Linked DNA regions of Homo sapiens. The protein of the gene in region 2 interacts with the protein of the main gene of each other region in a biochemical or structural test. Each region holds a gene or a part of one and is shown on either strand. Other genes may lie near its edges.

Region 1 (7,610 bases), on a different chromosome or scaffold from region 2:
GCCTTGAGTATTTCAGCAAAAACACAATATAATATGGAATTAAATCTACTGAACACCTGGGTGTTCCATGATTTTAAGATGCATCAGACAATGTCTTTCTAGGCCATCTGTCACATTTACCACAATTACTGGGATCAATGGCATGTGAACTTTGTTCTCCTTGTGCGTCACTGGTGCTATAGGATGTTTTAGCTATTTACCACAACCACCATTACCCAACTTCAAGCAGCATGAAAACCTTTTACAAAAGGCTGTCTTTTTATAAGCAAATGTGAATTTCAAATTTAGTATAACCTATGTTAGCAAAGAAGAAAAAACTTTTCTTTTTACCTTTTTGCCACATTTTAAATTTATATACTGGTTTTCAGTGTGAATCTCAGTATGCCATAACTCAAATCTACCTCAGGTTGGAATATTATTCAAATATGTAACTATTTTACGTTATAGAATCCATTATTTCACCATAAGTTATTCATTGAAATAAATCATAAGAACAAGCAATTTGGGGGTTTTCTCCCTATATTCATCATTCCCTTCCCTCTATCCAATTCAGAATTAAATCCTGACAACTCCACATCAGAAATGTTTCTCAATAACAACCTTACTTCATTATTCCCAGAATGCCTACATTCTTTTTTTTGTTTTGCTTTTTGTTTTTTGAGATGGAGTTTTGCACTTGTTGCCCAGGCTGGAGTGCAATGGCACAATCTCAGCTCACTGCAACCCCTGCCTTCCAGGTTCAAGTGATTCTCCTGCCTCAGCCTCCTGAGTAGCTGGGATTACAGACATGCGCCACTGTGCCCAACTAATTTTTGTATTTTTAGTAGTGTGAGATTTCACCATGTTGGTCAGGCTGGTCTTGAACTCCTGACCTCAGGTGATCTGCCCGCTTTGACTTCCCAAAGTGCTGGGATCAAAGGCGTGAGCCATCACACCCGGCCCTAAATTCATACTTTTAAGGCTTCTCTATGGACCCTTTGAACAACTTTAACTGGTCTTCCTTCTAAGAGGTTGCTTCTCCTCTAGTCCGTATTCCACACAGTAGCCTGATTATCTTCCCAAAAACTGAACAAAATCCCTGTCCTCATGGAGCCTGTGTTCTAATTGAACAAACCAACAATTTTTAAAAATGTGATAATGAGCTATAAAGAAAATAAAAACGGTAAGAGGAAAGGGCAAAGGAGGGATTAACTTTAGATAGGTTGGTGACATTTGATAATAACAAATGCTAATGCCCTCTAGCTAAAGAGCAGCAGGAAAACAACTAGATTCAAACCAAGGTGGGTTTAATGTCTTGTTGCAGGGAGGCAGAGAGCAATGAGGAGCGAAGTTGGGCAGGAGCACTCTCAGTAAGAAGGTATTGGTATTGTGAAAAACATTACAGGAATGAGTGTGTTGTTAGGTGATTTTGGGGAAGTGTCAAGGTTTTGCTCTGGATTGGATGCTGGCAGGAAACAGGTGATCCTATAACTTAATATTTTAATATTTGCTATCTAGAAGGCAGGAAGAATGGATCAAGGCTAAGCCTGTAATTGGCCAAGAAACAGTGGTCACTTATATTAACCAGAATGTTTGGTCATTTTTGTGGTTTAGAGACTGTTCTTGTATTTGCTGTGTTCAGACATGATTGTGGAGGGGTCTTATTTTTGTCTTGCCTATTGTAGTCATAAAATGACTATAACTGATGTTGATGTTTTGTGGGACTGTTTATATTTGACAAAACAATGAGAACTGAGAATGCCAGGACAGCTGCCAGTACCACAAATGCCTAGCTAATAGTGCCAGTCCAGCTCCTGGCTGTCCGGAGTTGGTTTCCACTGCAACTCCACCCTCTCTGCCCCCCAACTAGCAAAGCCATCAGCTGCTACAACTGTCTCTATAATTCTAATTTATGACTCTTATTCATAATTCTGTATCTTTAACATTTACAACATTAGTATTATTATTTAGGGTACTGAGTTCCAAAACTCATTACAGCTCTCCTGATAATAGTAGTAGCTTATTTAATCACTGATGAACTATACAAGACTCTCTCTGCTATTTGCTGTGGTAAAGAAATAAAAAGAAGGGTTAGAGATAATCCTAAGCCTCAAAGAATCTGAAATTTTTTCTGGGGAGAACTAGTGGTGTGATGATGGTGGGTGATGAGAACAGACATGCAAAATATCTAAATTATAAAAAAACAAGTATCTTTTGTCAGCACAGAGTCCAATAGGTAGACCAAAGACAATTTGCTTGTGGTTGAATGGTTTAGGAACTGGGAGTAAGGAAACAAATATTGTAAATTTTAGCAACGACTTCAGAACTCTCAGAGTCAGTTGCTTCATCTCTAAAAACAAGAAGTTGAAGTTGGATGGTATGTGTAGTTCTGATACATTTGCATGGTGCCAGGCTGTCTGTACAGGAATCACATAGGGAGCCTGTTACCAGGTAGCGATTCGAGGGCCCCGTATCCAGAAAGCATAAAACATCCTAACTTTTTGAGATTCATCCATGCTTTTTCTCTTGTGTTGCTGAGTAGTATTTAATTAGATGAATATATCAGTTTATTAATCCGTTCTCCCACTGATGGACATCTGGGCAGTTTATAGTTTTTGGTGACCATGAATAAAGTTGTTACGGACATTTTTGTACATGTCTTTTTATCGATATATGCTTTTATTTCTCTGGATAAATACCTAGATGTGGGATTGCTGGCTCATAGGGAAGATGTGTATTTAACTTATATGAAATGTATAGGTCGCAATTTTTTTTAAGAGACTGTGTTTCGCTACGCTGCTCAAGATGGACTACGGTGGCTATTCACATGCATAATCATAACAAGCTGGGCTTAAGCGATCCTCACGCCTCACCAGCCCTGTTGTAGTTTGAATGATAGGTACCACCACATCTGGCTCTGACAGGTTCATATTTTTGACATAAAGTTACAAAACACTTTATAATACTCTTGCCTTTTGTGAAAGTGCAGCCTAGTAGAGATGTCAAAGGATCTGTAATAAGTCCTCAAGCACTGCTCTGGGGCCCTGGAAGATTCTCCTACAGGCAAATGGATGAAAGTTATGTGGATTATATGTGTACGTAAATGTCGTTCAGGCAATGCATTTGATAGTGAATAGCGTGTATGTCTGTGAAATCTTTTGACAAATATTTGCTTCTAGAATTCCACATAACTGTCATTAGGCTCTGAAAGGATCCCTGAATGTGACAGACTTAAGATTGGTCATTTCTGACAAAAAGGCCAGAATTAACAATTGTTTGACAGCATGTTTGAGAGCAGGCTGGGTGGGGCTGGCCACTATAGTGGGAATAGCAATGTAGGTTCCAACAGTGGTCTTCTCCAAGCCACTGGGCCTTGAATATTGCAATACTTCTTCCTCAGTCAGCTCTCTCAAGTTATCCTTAGCAGATTTTTTTTTAAACACCTGCCACTTCTCTTCCACCCTTCAGCAGGTAACCAAGCTCTATCTGAAGCAAAACAGAAACCAACAGAAAGGAACTCTTTCACCTTCCTGCTAGAAACATCCACCTCTCTGTATCCGTCCTTTATCTACCTTTCCTCATTCTCTGTAATCACAATGAAGAAAGTATCCTTCCTAAAGCACTCTCCATTCCACCTTCTCCTCTTATTTCTCTCACTAGAGTGGCTCATTCCCATGGTATTTGCCTCCTCTAATTTTTCGCTTGTGAAAGCTAACCTCTCCGCACCAGGTACCGCTCTAGCAGCTGCCCTAGCTCTTTAGCCTCGATATAGTCAAACCTTCTAAAGGACTGCCTGCATAGCTGTTTCCTCTTTCTCATCTGGATCACCAACGTTTGTCATATAGCAGGCACTGCACCGTCATGTTTAAAATATACAACAGACGGCTAGACAGGATTCCGAGGGTGTAGACAATAAAGTGATCTACAGTTTGTAGCCTGGGTGTTGAATGGCTCACTGGGTGGGGAAGCTGTTATCTTTCTGCTGTGCACAGGTAATTTGATATATGCTTTCATTCTGAAATAAAGTTGTGGAAAGGCAGTAGTACGCAACAATTAAGAAAACACAAGTGGGTAAACAGTGGTGCCGCACAACCAATCAACCCCTCACATGACTTCGGTGCGCATCACCCAGGGGCCGCATCTGCCACTCTGCCCGAAGCGCGGTCAGCGCCCACACTGGCCCTTCCGGCGGAACCCGCCTCGCGGCTTCGAAGTGGCCTCGGTTTCCGAGTCAGGGGTGGTGACAGGGGTGGAAGGTGAGGGGAAGAGCCCAGCGGCTCCCGGCCAATGGCAGCTCTTGAACTTACACCTCGAGACGTCAGCGCGGCTGTGTAAACGGATGTCACACAGCTGGCTCGGAAGTGTCTCCTCCCGCCTCAGAAACGCGGCGCACGCCCAGCAGCTTCGGAAAAACCTTAGGCGGTGGGAGGGAGGGGCGTGCGCCGCACCCCGCAAGCCCAGAGCTCCGTGCCCTAGCCGGCCGGCTTCTTCCCGTAGTGCCGGTGTGACGGCCGTCCCGGGTGAGCAGCCGGGTGCCGGCGTCCCCGCCACGAGCGCGCCACCGCAACTGGCTCCGCCCCCTGCCGGAACGGGCCGCGCGCTCCTGCGGCTCCGAGCAGAGTCGCGGGTGCGCGCGCCGGCGGCGGATCCGCAGTTAAAATGGTCCGAGCGGGACCCGGCCTTTCCCCGGCCGCTCCGCTGACTGACTGAGCCGGCTGGCCGGGCCCGGACTGGTCGCCTAGCCGGCAGGCTCGCTCGCTCCCTCCCTCGCGTCCCCAAAGCTCGCGCCCATCGTTCTCCCGGCTTCCCTGGGCAAAGCATGTAGCCCCCGTCGGGCACTCCGGCGGCCCGCAGCTGACGCCCACCCCCCACCGTCGCGTGTGTGCCCGTGTGTGCGTGTGTGTGCGCAGGAAGGGCGACCCCTCCGGGGGCCGAGCCAGCGAGCGGCCTGCCCCGCTGCCGGGAGCCCGCCTCTCTGGGTCTCCCTCCCTCCCGTCCCGGTCCCCCTCCTCGGGGCCTTCTATATGGGCCACCTTCTCTCGAAGGAGCCGCGTAACCGCCCGAGCCAGAAGAGGCCTCGCTGTTGCAGTTGGTGCCGCCGCCGGCGCCCTCTCCTCAGGCTGCCCCGCCGGACCCCAGCCAAGGTGCCCCCTCAGCCGGCGGCGCCCCGGAGCCGGGACTGCTTCTTCCGCGGGCCCTGCATGCTCTGCTTCATCGTGCACAGTCCCGGCGCGCCCGCCCCCGCCGGCCCAGAGGAGGAGCCGCCGCTCTCGCCGCCGCCGCGGGACGGGGCCTACGCTGCCGCCTCCTCCTCTCAGCACCTGGCGCGGCGCTACGCGGCCCTGGCCGCCGAGGACTGCGCCGCTGCTGCCCGCCGCTTCCTGCTATCCTCGGCCGCCGCCGCCGCCGCCGCTGCCGCCTCGGCTTCGTCGCCCGCCTCCTGCTGCAAAGAGTTGGGGCTGGCTGCGGCCGCCGCCTGGGAGCAGCAGGGCCGAAGTCTCTTCCTGGCCAGCTTGGGGCCGGTGCGCTTCCTGGGGCCGCCCGCCGCCGTGCAGCTCTTCCGGGGGCCGACACCGTCACCGGCCGAGCTCCCTACGCCCCCCGAAATGGTGTGCAAGCGGAAGGGGGCCGGGGTCCCCGCCTGCACCCCCTGCAAGCAGCCCCGCTGCGGCGGCGGGGGCTGCGGCGGCGGCGGCGGCGGCGGTGGCGGGGGAGGGCCTGCGGGGGGAGGCGCTTCGCCGCCCCGGCCCCCCGACGCCGGCTGCTGCCAGGCCCCGGAGCAGCCCCCGCAGCCGCTCTGCCCTCCGCCCTCTTCTCCCACCTCCGAAGGTGCCCCCACCGAAGCTGGCGGGGACGCTGTCCGAGCCGGGGGCACCGCCCCCTTGTCCGCCCAGCAGCAGCATGAATGTGGCGACGCGGACTGTCGGGAGTCCCCCGAAAACCCCTGCGACTGTCACAGGGAGCCGCCCCCCGAAACCCCAGACATCAACCAGCTGCCGCCGTCCATCCTGCTCAAGGTGGGTCTGGGCGAGAGGCGCAGGGATGCTCGCTTTCCCCCACCCCCGGCCCCCGCCTCCGAGGCTTTCTCTCTCCTCCCCCTAAGCGCGGAGGAGGGGGGTTCCCTGGCAGCCTAGGGACGTCCCAAGGGGAGACTGGGAAGCCAGTGGGGCCTCTGCCTATGGCCTATTTTTTGAAGTAGGAGCACTTGGAGTCTACTGAATGTCTTTTAATAGCTTGACTCTATAACCCACCATTCAGGGTTCAGCTATTATTAGAATCCCAACCCAGTGGTTTAGAAACTTCGCAGGTATTCTGTGGAAAAAAAAATTTTTTAATCGAGGAATTTATACTTAGTGGGTAAAGGCTTTGCATGTTGGTGTTTGAAAGTCTTTAAACATTACTTTCATGTTTGATGGCTGGTAGTTAATGTCAAACGGTTAACTTACTGAGCATTTACCATAATCAGGCACTGCGCCAGACTTTATATATATAATATCCCATTTATCTAGTTAACGCTTCGAGATAAATACTGTTAATATCTTTATTTTATACAGGAAGAAACTGATTTCTCCGTGCTGTGGGCCACGGTTTATAGTAGTGAGTCAGGCAGAAGTGGTCTTTGCTCCTGTGGAGCTGACAGTCTAGTGGGGCTTGAAGTGGTTGAATGACTTGTGCAAGGTCACATACAGAAAGTAAAGGGTAGATCTAGGTCTTGAATGAGGGAATTTAAGACCACCTGACTTAAAAACCTCTTTGTTTATGCTATGTTGTAATGCCCTTCTACATTTTAACCCTTGCATAAAAGCATACAGATTACCAGAGGTAAGCACAGATGTATTTTTTGTTGGGAGATGGGTGTCCTGCATGAAGTTTGTGTCATTTTCAACTACCAAGAATATTTTGCAGTTTTGTCAATGCTAGTGACAAACTTTAGTTACATAATAGAGTTTTTATTAAGTTATTATTAACTTTTTCCCTCCTTTTCTCTCTTCTCCCACCCTACCCTATTTGGAGCTTAATAAATATAAACCATTTTCATTGTGGATGATACTAGAGACTAGCCATAAATAACCTTGATAAGAATTTGGCTACTTTTACCGTTACTGAAGTAACTGTCATTAATTACAATTGTTATTGTCACCAATATAGTTTCTTTGACTAGACTTTTTGCATATTTACAGTACTGTGTGTTTGGGTCTGTTTTACAGTGATATTATTGTTCTTGTGAGTGATACAGCAAGAGGGTGGGAAAACTTACATTTCCTTGTGTCAAAATGTAATGATCTAATTCTTATGGAGGTCTACTTGTTGGAAGAGTAATTGCCTACTCTTTGTGTGCAGAGGTGCATTTTAGGACAAAGGGAACTTTCTTGAGTCCTTTAAATCACTGGGTGATATGGATAAATAAAATATCAACAAATATTTGGTATAGAAACTTGATTGCTGTCTTCTTATTTGGCAAATAAGACTGTTTCAAAATGAACCAAAACAAAGCCAGGTACCTTCTACTTACAAATTATTTCATGAGGTAAAAAACATTTTAATGCCGAGAAAAAAAAGGGACATGATCTCATAATAAAGAGAAACTCTAATAGAATAAAATAAACTTATCCTATACCGCGTTGTTCTCT
Region 2 (7,019 bases):
GTCAACACATGTATATGTAAGTGGCTGCTTCTCCTTTGCAGTTAGCTGGGGACGCCCTCTACTAAAAACCACAACTGTTTCTGTAGCCAAGATCAGCACAGGGAGATTCCAACAGGACAGCCACATCCTCCTTCCCAAAGACCCCATCCGGAACACGGTGGGTCCAGAGGCCCTGCCCACAGCCCCTAACCCTGTATCTATATGACAGGAGGTGGGCAATTTGCAAGCCAGCCTCACACTCAGGCCTCATTTGTTGAAGGCCTGGGAGGGCCCGAGGCCAGAGTGATCCTTGGATCTGGCATGGCCTTCAGGCCAGAGCTGGGCCCTGTGTCAATTCCGTGGGTGGCCGACACTTTTCTCTTGCACTTGGGTGGACTATGGACTTTTCCTGTAACTGTTCTGAGGCTTCCACTCACCTCCATGACCTCAGATTGCAAAGGGCATATCTAAAACACAACGGTGCCTGCTGGTGATGCATTTGAAATACACACAGGAAACACAACTAGGAATGGGCCAATAAAGCTCCCTTAATTCCGCCCTGCTGGAAGACTTCACTTGCTGTTTAAATCATGCCAGGAAATAAACTATTGAATGGGTTGTTTTTGTTAGAGACCCATCCTAGAGAGACTGGAAACCAGGCCCTGGGGAAAAGGAAGGAGGAAGGCTGGTGGAATGCTGAGTGATGGCTCCCACCTTTGCCAGAGAGTCGCCGGGGCTGTGTGCCGATGCAGATGCTCCGGCTGTCCTCGTCATCCTCGGGGGGCCGGCTCAGGTCATCCCAGGCACACTTGGCACTGACACCACTCAGGTTGGAGCCATCTGTCTCGATGCCTTTGTCAACTCTCTCCTGCTTGAAAAGAACCAAAGAGCCAGAGTTCTTTCAGAGAACTGGTGACCCAAGGTGACCACCCTTTCAGCCACTGCTCTTACAGTATTTACTGAGCCCTTGTGGTGCTGAGCATGGGACAAATGCTGGAGAGCAGGATCTCTGACCTTGTTCTGCCCTGGTTACCAATGCATGATGGTCTCTGCCAGCTCCTGGACTCCTCCAGGGGAACCAGGGATTAGGGGAAGCCAGGAGGAATGCAAATCCCAAGGGAAACATCTCTTCTACCATCAGCCTTCCAGCACAATGGCCTCTACCTGTTTCAGAGCCCCAAACCTGTCCCCGCCACGCTGGCTGGTGGGGCTGATGTGGCCATGAGAGAGCCTACTTCTCTGAGGAGAGGTGTGATCCTTCCTCTCCTCCCGATCTTCAGGCAGAACCTCCCAGTCACTGCTATAGAAAACAGGGTGGAAGCCTGCCACAGGCAACAGGCCACACCTGCAGTTTCCCCTTCTAACAGCTAGAGGGTGTGGTCACACAGGGAAGAGCCACTGGAGAACAAAGGCTGGACTTCCCTAGATGCATTGGTTCCCTTGTTTAGCAAAGGACTCTGGATGGAGATTCCTTCCCATTTCTTAGACTGAAATGGGGGCCTAGAGTGCAGTGACTATCTGCAGACACCCTTCTCTCCCCATCGAGACCCTGCCTTTGTGCAGGCCTTGGTACTGCTGAGTACAAACACTCTCCAAATGGCTTCAAGGAAGAGTTGTACTCAAAACATCCCTGGATTTTCTGGTAAAACACAGTTCATTGATGCTGGACCTTGAATTAAAAGTCATCTGGAAGGCTCTATGTCCATGTGGGCCAAATCAAGCTTGTGACTGAGCATCTCAACAATAATCTGTGCTTCCCGGCTCCACAGGTACCACACTGGCCTGCTGATCAGCCCAGAAGCCCCATGTGGGAGAAGTACAGGTACTGTCCTTATTTCCTGGGACCAGTCAGCAAGTGGCTCTGCCCCAGACGCCTCCTTCCCATCAGTCATCTCCTCCTTTCAAGTGCTAATGCTGGCCTGGGCAAAGCTGTGGGTTCCGAGCAGGAAGAGGCTAAGCAGGGAAGCGCTCTGTGTACTCTGGGCAGGGAGCATGTATACCCTGGTGTGCTCAGGGGATAGTCTGAGCTTTTTCCTCTGCACTGGCTGCCCTGGGGTCCCTCACTTAGGTAAAGAGTTGCAGACAGACAATTCTTGGCTCAACTTGTCTGGGCTATTTACTTTATAAGTAAAAAGAAAAAGTTAAGACCCAGAAGGCGAGGGACTTATTTGGGCACACAGCTGGTTAGTGTAGAGCTTGAATCACAGGAATATATGCCAGCTCTAAAGAGACTGATAGCAAGCAGGCCCCAGAAAGGCACAGTGAATACAGAGGAGTTCACACTTGGTGCACAGAGCCACCAGGAAAGAAAGCTGTCCTTTGTTCCTGTGGGACCCTGGCTTGCTTTCAAAGACCACTAGGTGCTCCGGGTCCTGTGGGCTGCTCTCAGGGGATCCTGCAGACTAGGAAGAACAGCCCTTGGCATGGAAGGACAGCTGTTTACCCTACTAGTGCAAAGGACCAGGTTCTTTCTTAGTACTTGGCACTTATGACAGGGGCCAAACAACGGCCCACAGTGCCCCATGCTGGATCCCAGTGTGGCTACAGAACAAGGGCTTAGGGAAAGATAGCCTTCCTGGTTCCTGGTTCTTGCATATGCAGAAGATACAAGGAAACCAAGTTTAAAGCAGAGAGAACAGAGGATCCTGGCAGCAGTTTGAAATGTTCAGTGTTAAAGGCACTAGGAAAACAGAGGAGCATCATCTGTGAATGAAGAGGATTTATGCCCAAGAACTCACAAGTCTACAGTGAAGAACTCAGGGGCTGCTGGCTACATGTCCATCTGCCACCTTTCTCTTGCTCTAACACATGGAACTCCCGGCAACTGCCTGTGGCCTACCAGATATTTTACAGAAGCATGGCAGGTTTAGAGATGGCAATGACCTGCATTTGGTCAGGGGAGTAGAAGGAGCCAGACACCAGGCAGGTAACATTATTAGCTGTCTGTGGCTCCTGCTTCAAGAGAAGCCCATAAGAAAGGCAGTTATGGGCCAGGCGCACTAGCTCAAACCTGTAATCCCAGCACTTTGGGAGGCCGAGGCGGGCGGATCATCTGAGGTCAAGAGTTCGAGACCAGCCTGGCCAACATGGTGAAACCCTGTCTCTACTAAAAATACAAAAAATTATCTGGGCGTGGTGGTGGGCGCCTGTAATCTCAGCTACTCGGGAGGCTGAGGCAGGAGAACTGCTTGACCCTGGGAGGCGGAGGCTGCAGTAAGCCGAGATTGTGCCACTGCACTCCAGGCTGGGTGAGAAGAGCGAAACTCCGTCTCAAAAAAAGAAAAGGCAGTTACGTTCTTGTGGCTTTCAAACTTTACCTGCATGACAAAGGAATGCTTCTAAAACAGCAAAGATGACACTGAAACAATGTCCAGGTGGGCCACAGGGAGTGGGCAGCTGCCAGCCTGTGTGTCTAAGGTGCCAATCTTTCCAGGCTAGGAGCTCTGCATCTGACTGTCCAAGATAGAAAATGTGGCGAAAATGGGGATAGGACCATTAGACCAATCAGCCCTCACTCCTGCAGCTGAGCCATGGAGTCAGTATCACCTACACTACTGTCTGGTACAGGGCGGTGGTGGCCGTGGTGGCTCCCTAAAAGAAAGTCTGGGAGGCAGGAGAATGAATACTGGGCAAGCAAGCAATATCCACTACACTTATCTTTTATTGCTGGCAATCTAATTTTTTAAGCCAATATATAATTTACATACAATAAAAATATCCTTTTAAAATGCCAAAATACATATGTCTGAGGACTAGCTTTCCTGGGCTGAAACCTCTGCTCCCTACGTGCTCTGCAGAATTCAGGGGACAAGTTCCAAGTGATGCCATATTTCTACTCACTCACACATAAAGGTCCTCTGTTTTCCCAGGATGAAAGCCAGTGTTATTTGGAAGAGGCCTAGGCACAGGGTGCTAGAAAGGTTTTCCTCACTCAAGACATACTTGCAGGTGTGGATCGATCTCAAATATGGTCTCTCCCCTCCGCATGTCAGTTATCAGCCAGGGGCCGCCAGCACTGTGGACAAGGAAAGGGGATACAATGGTAACTGAGGGTCTGGGGCTGATGGGCTGGGCCTACAGCCTGCCCTGTTTGCTGCCCCAGGCCTAGGACACAGGGGAATAGTTCGTGGTCAGGGACTGTCAGGGAGTGAGTCGTCAGGAAGCCCTGATGTGAAAAACCAGGGTCTGAAATAACAACGCAAGAGGGAGCCCCACATGGAGGGTAGTGGAGGGACTCCCACCCCCAGGCCCAGGGAGCCGCGCTCCCACCTTGCATGGGTACTCACATAGGCACTGTCCGCAGCAGCTCCAGGATGCCCTGCCCGTTCCACTGCTGGGCTGAGTGTAGCTCTTCAGTGCAGACACCAACGATCTGAGGCCCAGGATAGAAAGCCCATTGTGTGTTAATGGCCACCCCCCACCCCAAGAAGGTCAGCTACCCAGGCTCTCTGAGTCACCTCCAGTTGGGAGACCACAGGCAGGATCTGTGCTCAGGAGCTGGTGCAGCCAAGATTGGATGATTCCCTTAGGAGGGAGTGGCTGCCTGGCTGGGAAATGGCTGGGTCCACATGTGGGCCCTGAGGCCTGACCCTTGCCCTTGCTGTGTCTGGATGACACCAAGTCTAGCTCTTAGCTACAAAGGAGAAAACCAAGGCCTGAGCAACTCAAGATGTGTCCTCAGGCCATGTCTCTGGAAGTAGGGGAGGTTCAGGGAGCCATTCCTACCCAGTCTGGTATCATGGGGAATGTAAACAAGAGACTTTGAGACCTATCAGGCTTGGAACCACCACCAATAGGTCATAGCAGCCTGCAGAGAAACTCCTCCCTTCCTTATTAGGGGATAGGCCTTTGTGTAAATATCAAGGGAATCAGTGGAACCTTCACATAGACTTCGTGACCAAAAACAAGCACTGGTCAAAGCTGGGCAGGTTCCCACAGCTTCTGGCAAAGAGCAAGGACGACCCAGAGCTGGCTTCCCGCTGGAAAGTCCTGTTCCTGAGACTGGGTCTTCACTGTTCAAAGAATACCCGCCACCCCATTACTCCCTCTCAGCTACAGCCATTCTCTCCCAACCAAATGCCCCCTTCCCTTTCTCCCCTCTCCCATCTCAGCAGGTTAAATCAGACCATCTGAATCTACCTGACAAACCATCAGAGGAAACAGAAATCAGGACGAGGCCAAAGGAAACCTCCCACTCCCTTCACTCCCCCTCCTCAAGCCTCCTTGTCCTCCCAGGACCCTTCCCACAGGAAGGCTTGAGCCAGCGTCCAACCTGTGCCTCACCTGGAGGAAGGTAACTACCCCAAAGGGTGTCTGCACGGGCTGCATCTGTGGGTCCTCTGTCAGCAGCATGTGCTGAATTCTTGACTCACTGTTATCCAAAGGGCTGTGCCAGGACACATGGTCCCCACTGCAGAAGGTGTTCTCTGTGGGAGAGATACAAGGATCCTCATTGTTCAAGGCCCCAGATCCAGGCCTGGAATCTGGGCTGGGATCTCACTAGCCCAGGCTGGGAGGCTTCCCAGCCTCTTAGGGTAGCCCCTGTGAAGGAAGAGAAGCATTCACTCCGGATGGAAGCAAAGAGTTTGTGGATATTTCCAAAAACCTAAATTGTTCCTGCTTGCCAGTTCTGTCAGACTTGAAAAGGACAGGCTATTAGTGTGAAAGCTCCTTCGGCCTGGGAAACCAGAAAGACTTCTGGCATCTGCTTCGCTTCCCCAATATCCCGACTCATGGTGGGAGGCAGGAGCCATGACTGGATCTGCCAAGAAAGAATAAGGTGCTTTTCTGTAGGGCCACCTGGCCAGAAGTCCACAGAGAGGCAACAGGGCAATGAAAGCCCTTCACCTTGGAGAAACAGACCGAAATTCCTATGTTGCTGAAATGGCACTCAGAAGGAAACATCGAACCTTGGAGAGCCTTTGAAATCTATCACCATTTTCCCACAGGCAGATGTAGGAATTCCTGAGGAACACTAGGCTTCAAGTAAATGGAGGTCTAAATAGTGCCTCCCACACCGTGGCAGAGACAACTCATGAGGATCCTCAGGCCATGTCTCTGAGATGTTCAGATTCTGCCAAGGGTAGCTGTTGCCATGAGGGCATAGCCTCCTCACACACAGGCTCACCACTGCACTTCAAGCAGGTACGTTACTTTAGAGAGAGTTTTGTTTAAGGCCACATAACCACAAGGGAAAACAACCCCACAGGGTACTAAGTCTCTCACCAGCTCTGACTCTCATCGTGGGTGCCAAGGTGCTCTATATGTCCAGCCTATGCATCCACAGGCTCCCTTCCATGTTTTGTCCTTACACAAATGGAAGCACACTATTCTGCAGATTTCACTTAATTATATATCTTAGACAGCACCTTTTTTTTTTTAATATGGAACACTTCACGAATTTGCATGTCATCCTTGCGCAGGGGCCATACTAATCTTCTCTGTATCGTTCCAATTTTAGTATATGTGCTGCTGAAGTGAGCACGAGATCACCTTTTTTTTTTTTTTTTGAGATGGAGTCTCGCTCTGTTGCCAGGCTGCAGTGCAGTGGCGCGATCTCTGCTCACTGCAACCTCCGCCTCCTGGGTTCAAGCGATTCTCCTGCCTCAGCCTCCTGAGTAGCTGGGATTACTGGCATGTGCCACCACACCTGGCTAATTTTTTGTATTTTTAGTAGAGGTGGGATTTCACGGTGTTAGCCAGGATGGCCTCGATCTCCTGACCTCGTGATCCGCCCTCCTCGGCCTCCCAAAGTGCGGGGATTACAAGTATGAGCCACAGCACCCAGCAGAGATCACTGCTTCTCAGCATATGGAGAGCTATCTCATTCTTTAAATGGCTGTTCCAGAGTTCACTATGGTCTGTCATTCACGATCTCGGAATCTCAACAGTTGAGGTATCTTTCTTCACTTTTTATCAATATTTAAGGTAAGGCAGAACACACACATACACACACAGACACACCTTTTCCATCCAAGATACGGCTTCAGTTATTGGTCCTAACCTCAATAGTGTTCATTCAGGCAGGAGAAGGAAGACTG
Region 3 (7,051 bases), on a different chromosome or scaffold from region 2:
GTGCCTTGATCTTGGACTTTCCAGACTCCAGAACTGTGAGTAGTAAATTTCTGTCATTTATAAATTACCCAGTCTAGGGTGTTTTGTTATAGCAGCCTGAGTGGATGAAGACACAGGCTTTGTAGCCTAACCATGAAGCAGTACACCTATCTCAGAGCCTATCTAGTCTTCCACGGGTCTCCAGTTAGCCATGTGTAGCAGACTGTGTTTTCCAAAAACAGCCACAGCAACCTTTCTGCTCCCAGGTGCTTTTTCAGAATCATGCCACTCCCCCTCAAGAGATGGAGTCTAGCCTGGTGTGGTGGCTCATGCCTGTAATCCCAGCACTTTGGGAGGCCGAGGCAGGTGGATCACTTGAGGTCAGGAGTTTGAGACTAGCCTGGCCAACATAGTGAAACCCCATCTCTACTAAAAAATACAAAAATTAGCCAGGTGTAGTGGTGCGTGCCTGTAATCCCAGCTACTTGGGAGGCTGAGGCAGGAGAATCCTTTGAACCCTGGTGGCAGAGGTTGCAGTGAGCAGAGATGGCGCCACTGCACTCCAGCCTGGGCAACAGAGCAAGACTCGTCTGAAAAAAAAAAAAAGAAGAGAGATGGAGTCTATTTTCCCTCCCCTTAACCGAGGCAGATCTCTGTGTCTGCCCTGAAGAATAGAGTGCACTGACGTGATACGGTGTGCCTGCCGAGGTTTCATAGAAGACCAAAGGCCTTCTCCCTGGCTGGTTCTTGTTAAGCTCGCCCTGCATATTAGTTACCACCGTGCTATGAGGGACCCCAACTAGCCTGAGTAAAGAGACCACATGAAGAGGTGCATGGAAAGGAACTGAGGCCCCCCACCAGCCAACAGTCAGCACAGACCGCCAGGCAGCGGAGCCAGAGTCTTCAGAGGATCCCAGCCTCAGCCCTGAAGCTTTCCAGTGGAGGCCTGACACTGTGGAGCAGAGACAAACTGCCCCTGTTATACCTCGTTCAAAATCCTGATGTGCAGAAGCCACGAACATAAGAAATGGTTGTTTCCTTCCGTTGAGTTTGCGGGTGATTTGTTCTATGACTAGTCACTAGAATACGGGGAAATAATGAACAAGCTGCTTCCTTTTGGGCCTGGTTTTTCTCGTCATTCAGGCCCATTTCACAGAAAGGGAGAAGGAAGAACTGGAACACTCCACTTCCCCTTCTCCTAGTCCACCCTCCCTCATTCCTCATTCCTTCTTATCAGTGCAACCTCATCTCCCCAGGAAAGCGTTCTCCTTCTCTGTACCACTCCCCTCCCCAAGCTCACCTCCCAGCTTGCTCAGGTCTCCAATCACCGGCTCCCACAGCACGGTGGATTTTCCTTTACCCAGTTTGTGATTATATGTTTGTTTGTGGTTATTAATGAAACATAAGCTCCCTAAGGGGAAAGATCTTGTAGGTGTTGCTCACTGTGGTGTCGAGCCACTTAGCACAGTGCCTGGTACTGATTGAATGAACCAGACTGGCCAAAGGTCATACACTTAGTACCAGATCTGGGACTAGGACCTGGTGTCCCAGCGCTCAGTCGAAGGCTTCCCTGGCCACACCAGTTTGCCTCCACTCCAAACCTTCTGCTGCTTTTTTCAGCGCCCAAACTTCTGACCATCTAGAGATTCAGGCACGGTGTCTACAGAGTTCTCCTCCAACCAAAAAACATTCTGTCTTCATCTCGACAGCCATCTTCTTGCCAAAATAAGCCGGGAAAGGTTATGTGAGTGCCTGGAGTCCAGCAGGAGTTGAGCTGGTCTGAGAAGAAAAACAGAGAAGAAGGAAATATCCTAAAACATTGATTTGTTTAAACTTCTTCACAAACTTTACAACACAAGGAAATCAACAGAGACAAGCTCATAATGAAGTAATCAGCCAACGCGGCTAATATTCCAGCAATGAGAAATGATTCCCTACATGTCATGGGGCAGATATGAATAGGGTCATTAAAATATGGCCAAGGAGGGGAGGGAGAGTTTACTTTTTCTGTCTCCTTAGAGTCTGTGTTCTGAAAGCTCAGCAGGAATTTAAACAAATAGCACGGAGGAATGGTGAATCTGATCATCTTTAAAGAAAAAGCCCCTTTCAAACTTCTCTTTAAATCATTGGCTTATGCAAGTTTCGCTTTTTAAAAATGCTGCCGACCTTTTCCCCCCAAACAAAATTAGCATCAAATTGTTCTAATATTTTTCTGCATATTTTTTTCTCTAGGTCAAGAAGAAATTGTTGCTCCATCATATAAGTGAATGTCAGGAGGAGGAAGGAGGATCTTAAGGAATGAAGTTCTAATGCATCCTCTTTGATTAAAAAGTAAAAGAATAAAGTTAGCAGAGGATAAAAGGTATATGGAGAGAGCCACCCACAAAAAGGGTTGCACCGGTGAAATGGGCCTGTGTAGGTCACATCCCCTCAGGGAGGGTAGCATTGGGTCCCTTGCATTTCAAATAAAATGCAATTTTAGGAACAGGGGCTGAAGGGAGAGACACTTCCACCCACCTCAACAGGGCAATTTTTTAAAAATTTAATTTAATTAATTTATTTTTTTGAGACAGAGTCTCGCTCCATCACCCAGGCTGGAGTGCAGTGGCGCCATCATGGCTCACTGCAACCTCCATCTCCCAAGGGGTTTGAGAGATTCTCCAGCCTCAGTCTCCCAAGTAGCCGGGATTACAGGCGCGCGCTACTATCCCTGGCTAATTTTTTGTATTTTTAGTAGAGACGGGGTTTCACCATGTTGGCCAGGCTGGTCTTGAACTCCTGACCTCAGGTGATCCCCGTGCCTCGGCCTCCCAAAGTGCTAGGATTACAAGCGTGAGCCACCGCGCCCGGCCCAACAGGGCAAATTTAACTGAACTTACAGTACAACCACCCGAAGCTCTGGGAGGATGGCAGAGTGCTCTGACCTTAGACTAGTTACTTAACTTTTTAAAGCATCAGACTTCCCACCTGTAAAAACACGAGAAGAGAACCTTCCTTACAGAGCTGTGAAAGTCCAATAATACAAAGAAAATATAACATCACCTGGCACTTGGTAGAGTGTTCTACAAACGTTAGGAAGAATAAAACCAGAAATTCCCCCCAAGACCCTCTTCGGGTGAGGCCCAGGGGCCCTGGAGAGGGTGGCAGGCCCGGGGGTGTGGGGAGGACACTTTAGCCAGCTGCCCCCAATTCTCCTCCAAGCCTGGCGGCCCAGTTCCGGGCTGTGGTGTGGCTTGAGGGCCCAGGGCTCCTCACTGAGCTTGCTTAAGCAAGTTCTTTCACACACAGCCCCATATACACTTTGGCTAGAAAATTCAATGAGGAGTTTTTTCTTCCTTCTTTCTCTGTTGTTGTTGGGTTCTGATTACTTCCATCTGGCTTCAGCGGCTCGAGTGGAGTCTCTAAAACACACAACACAACAAAACAAAAACCCACCCTGCAAGCCACATGCACCAAACCTAGAAGGCTGCTTCGTTTCTCGCCAGCGTGTGCTCAGATGGCGACGAGGGCTAGCGGCGGCGGGGGACGCCTCAGGACCCCCGGCACCTGCGCTCGCTGCCCGCGGGAAGAGGGTCCGCGTGGACCCAGCCCCCGCGTCCCTTCTCTGGCGTCCCCGGCTTCCGCGCGGGCGTCCAGAGAAGCGGGCGCCCTGGGAACAGCGACCCAGGCATCTCCCCGAGGAGGGAAGTGGGAGGTGGGGAGGGCGGGGGGATTTCAGAGATTGAAAACAGAGCAGCCCTTGCCCCTCAGCTCCGGAGCTCATCTGACTTGAGTTAGCGACACCCCCAACCCCCCCCCCCACACCTAGTCGTCTAAAAAAAGTGTCGGAGATTGGCGCGTCCTTTGGTTCCTTTCTCGAACTTTCCTTGTAGGTGCGTTTTCTTTCCTTGGTGCTGGGTGGGGAGAGTCCCTGTGCTCCCCCTTTCCCCTCCCCCCGCCCCGGCGGCGTTCGGGTCCCCCTGCGTCCCCCGGCAGGGAGCGGGCGGGCTGGCTGGCGGGTTCTTGGGGCCCGGGTGTGCCCGCACCGTGCGCGCGGGGGCGCTGCGCAGTCCGGCGGCGCTGATGGATTGCAGAAGTGCCGGCGCTTGCCAGCCGAGGCAGCACGGCTCCGCGGACTTTTTTTCAAACTCCCATCAATGAGACTTCGAGGAGGAGCGGGCGGCGGCGGCGGCTGCGACTGCGAACGCGGAGGAAGGCCAGGAGCCGCAGGAGGAGCCGGAGGAAAGAGCTTGGGCCGCGCGGCGCGCCGCAGCCTCGGGGAGCCGCCTGCTCGCCGGCGGTAGGGGCTGCGCGGCGCCCGCCCGCCTCTCGGTCCCCTCTCTTGCCTGGCCCGCCCCGCCCCGGCTGGCTGGAGCCCCGGCACAAGGCAGCCAGCCGAGGGTCGCCGCGCCAGCCAAGGTGGGATGGGGGCCCACAGCCACCGCCCGGCGCCCGAGAGGCCACCTGCGTGCTAGAGGCAAACTTTTGTCTCTCTCGGTAAAGTTGCATTGGCCTTCTTTTGCTTGCTTTTCGTGACGAAGCGCCTCCCACCTCGGCCAAGCGCGGGCCGACTGGGATGCTGCGCCGTCTCGGGGGGTCCCTCGGCCGGGTACCGGCGCCTAGGCCTTGGGATCGGGGCCCTGGGCTTCGGGGGACTAGAGGCTAGTAGGCGCGACCCCGCCTGGGGCTCTGGACGAGCAGGGCGGGGACGTAAGGAGAGTCCTGGGGCTTGGAGCTCGTGGCCAGAGGTCGATGTTGCACCCTCTCCCTACCTGGGGGAGAGCACCACTCTTCTCGGGGTGCACAGCGAGCCGGCCTCCGCGCGCCGGCGGGGGTCTGTTTTTTCAGGGGGTGGAGGGTGGGATCGGAGGCTGGGATGCTCCGAAGCTGCCGTAGGTGGGCATGGGAGCGTGTCTGCGGGCGTACTGAGCGCGGAGGGGCTGCAGCCAGCCACTTGAGAACTTCGAACTCCACTTCTCCGCGCTGCGCGTCCCGGAGCCCTGCCTTTCTTTCTTCCTTCCTCAATCCTTCCTCCCCCTCGCCCGGCCCGGCCGCCCCCTCCCCCTCTGCTGGGCTCTCCTCCTCGGCCCCCCCTCTTTGCCTCTCTTCTCCTCCTCTCCTGCCCTCGGCCCTGAGATCCGCTTGACTTCCCAAAGGGATCCGCACGTAATCCTTTGCCGGGTCCTCCGGTTCCCCCTTCCACCTCACTTTCATCCCTGCCCCCCTACTCATCGTCTCTCCCCACCCCCGACAATCTCTCAACAAGTATATTTGCTGAGGAATTTGAAAAATCCACTACTGCAACTTGATCTGTATGTGATGGATGGGGAGAGGCGCGGAGAGAGTTGGGCGCCAATCCTATTAAGGGTTTAGAGAGGGGAGTCTTTTCCCCGGACGGGGCGGGGGCGGGGAGCTGGGAGGGAGCGTGTGCTTGCGTGTGTGAGTGTGAGCGCGCCCGCCGCGCTGGAGAGCTGGGAGTCCACCCAGCTCGGCGCCTTTTCAGCCCGGCGGTAACTGCTGTCATTTCCTAGGAAACCCGACTTTTACCGCGCGGGGAGCTGGGGATGGAGCCCGTGCGCCTCACCCTGGGTGATCGGTCGCTGAGGCTCTCGGGGACCTCGAGCCCCCCCGAGGGTGCCTCTTTCCACTACCTTCTCTTTTGTGTAATTGTTCTGTGGCTCCTAGAGTTGATCCCAGCTGGAAAAGTAGACCTGTCCCTACTGTCTGGTCCCGCGCCCTGGGAGTCTTGTAGGCGTCCCTCTGTCCCCCAGCCCGGGCATCCCGCTCGGTGCGCGACCTCTGGCACGGGCTTTGCAGCTCGGTGGCCGCAGCGGTGTCCCGGGCCCCCTCTCCGCCGCTCTTGCCGGGCGTGTGAAGGTTTAATCCCGACAGCTTCAGATAAAGGGAGCAGTTGTAAAACGCTCATAGGCTGTTTGCAGACGAGGCTCTGGGGGATGTAGGAGAATTTGAAAGTAAACGTTTCCCTCGCAAGCAGCATAAAATAGTGTTTAAACAAATATTGTATTGGCATGCTCAGGGGGCTCGGTGCCAAAAAGTAAAGTAAATAAACTGTGAAATCCAAAATATACAGCGGGGAAAGCGGAGGAATAGGCGGGTTTGTCACAGGCCTCCCTGATGAGACCAGTTTGTTCCAGCCACCTCACCTGCCAGCTTTCTCTCCGCCCATTTCCTTACCTTGCTGGGAGTTCCCTTGGCTGGGTTTCCCTGTGTCTGGGGACAGGCCCTCCCTGGGGCCTGGGAACGGCTTTGCAGTTGCTTGTTTAGGGGGAAGCTCACGGTGTGGCTACCTGGGCCTGACTCCACAGGGACGGGGGGCACCTTGGCTATGCCTGGCTGCTTTGAGTTTGGAGGCTCTTTATTTAGGCTTTTCCCAGCTTCTGGTCTGTCCTGGGGCAGTCATTCTAGAATGTGGAATCCAGATCCATCAGGGGCCTTCTCTTCTTTTTGACTATGCTTCTTGTGCCTCTTTCTTCATCGTTCTTGCTTTTGTTTTCCTAGACTTGCTGCTTCTCTCTTGAGGGTTACAGGAAATTGTGGAGATGTTTTTCCCTGGGATTCGAATTCCACTCAAGCCCAGCCATATGGAAAGTTGTCGCTTGTCTGATGAGTTTTAAAGTTAATTATATTTGGTAAGATTTAGGGTGGTTTTATTTTCTCCTCTGCTTCGAGAAATATGCCAGTTTCACGAAATTGTTTCGTGATTTTAGGGGATTTAAGCTAATACAGGGAAGATCCTGCATTTGAAAGAGCCCAGCTGCCCAGGAGGTATCCCTCAGGTGAACCAGCCTTCAGTTGGGCTAGCATCTGAGTGAGAGACTGTGGTCAGAACGGTCTATTTGCAAAGCCTCTTGGAGAGAATTAGAATTATAGGTAGAAAGAATTAGAATGATAGTAGAAAGAGCCTCCCAAGCCACCGAGGAACAAGGTAAGACTGCTAGAGATGGTTTTATCCTCTGTGGGAATCGATTTGACTGAATTTGCAGTGGGTTCAGATTCCTTCAGCAGAGACTTCCGGGCTGCTCCCAAACTCATTCTGCTCTGGCCTTGAAGGGGACTCTTGACTCGTGGCTTC

What was found.
Region 1: of the proteins of SUFU (region 2) and FBXL17, one has a biochemical effect on the other in vitro, tested with the Homo sapiens proteins (2 studies listed by BioGRID, with this or other methods).
Region 3: the proteins of SUFU (region 2) and GLI2 form a complex in vitro, tested with the Homo sapiens proteins (one study listed by BioGRID).

The regions. Positions count from the first base shown.
Region 1 is NC_000005.10:108,379,085-108,386,694, reverse strand, and holds the start of FBXL17 (F-box/LRR-repeat protein 17), read left to right. Parts: upstream 1-4,596; 5' UTR 4,597-5,003; coding exon 5,004-5,996; intron 5,997-7,610. UniProt on the Homo sapiens protein: Substrate-recognition component of the SCF(FBXL17) E3 ubiquitin ligase complex, a key component of a quality control pathway required to ensure functional dimerization of BTB domain-containing proteins (dimerization quality control, DQC).
Region 2 is NC_000010.11:102,590,968-102,597,986, reverse strand, and holds part of SUFU (suppressor of fused homolog), read right to left. Parts: intron 5,406-7,019; coding exon 5,263-5,405; intron 4,352-5,262; coding exon 4,266-4,351; intron 3,995-4,265; coding exon 3,922-3,994; intron 851-3,921; coding exon of another isoform or gene 848-850; coding exon 694-847; intron 1-693. UniProt on the Homo sapiens protein: Negative regulator in the hedgehog/smoothened signaling pathway. Down-regulates GLI1-mediated transactivation of target genes. Down-regulates GLI2-mediated transactivation of target genes. Part of a corepressor complex that acts on DNA-bound GLI1.
Region 3 is NC_000002.12:120,731,831-120,738,881, forward strand, and holds the start of GLI2 (zinc finger protein GLI2), read left to right. Parts: upstream 1-4,037; 5' UTR 4,038-4,455; intron 4,456-4,730; exon of another isoform or gene 4,731-5,831; intron 5,832-7,051. UniProt on the Homo sapiens protein: Functions as a transcription regulator in the hedgehog (Hh) pathway. Functions as a transcriptional activator. May also function as transcriptional repressor. Requires STK36 for full transcriptional activator activity.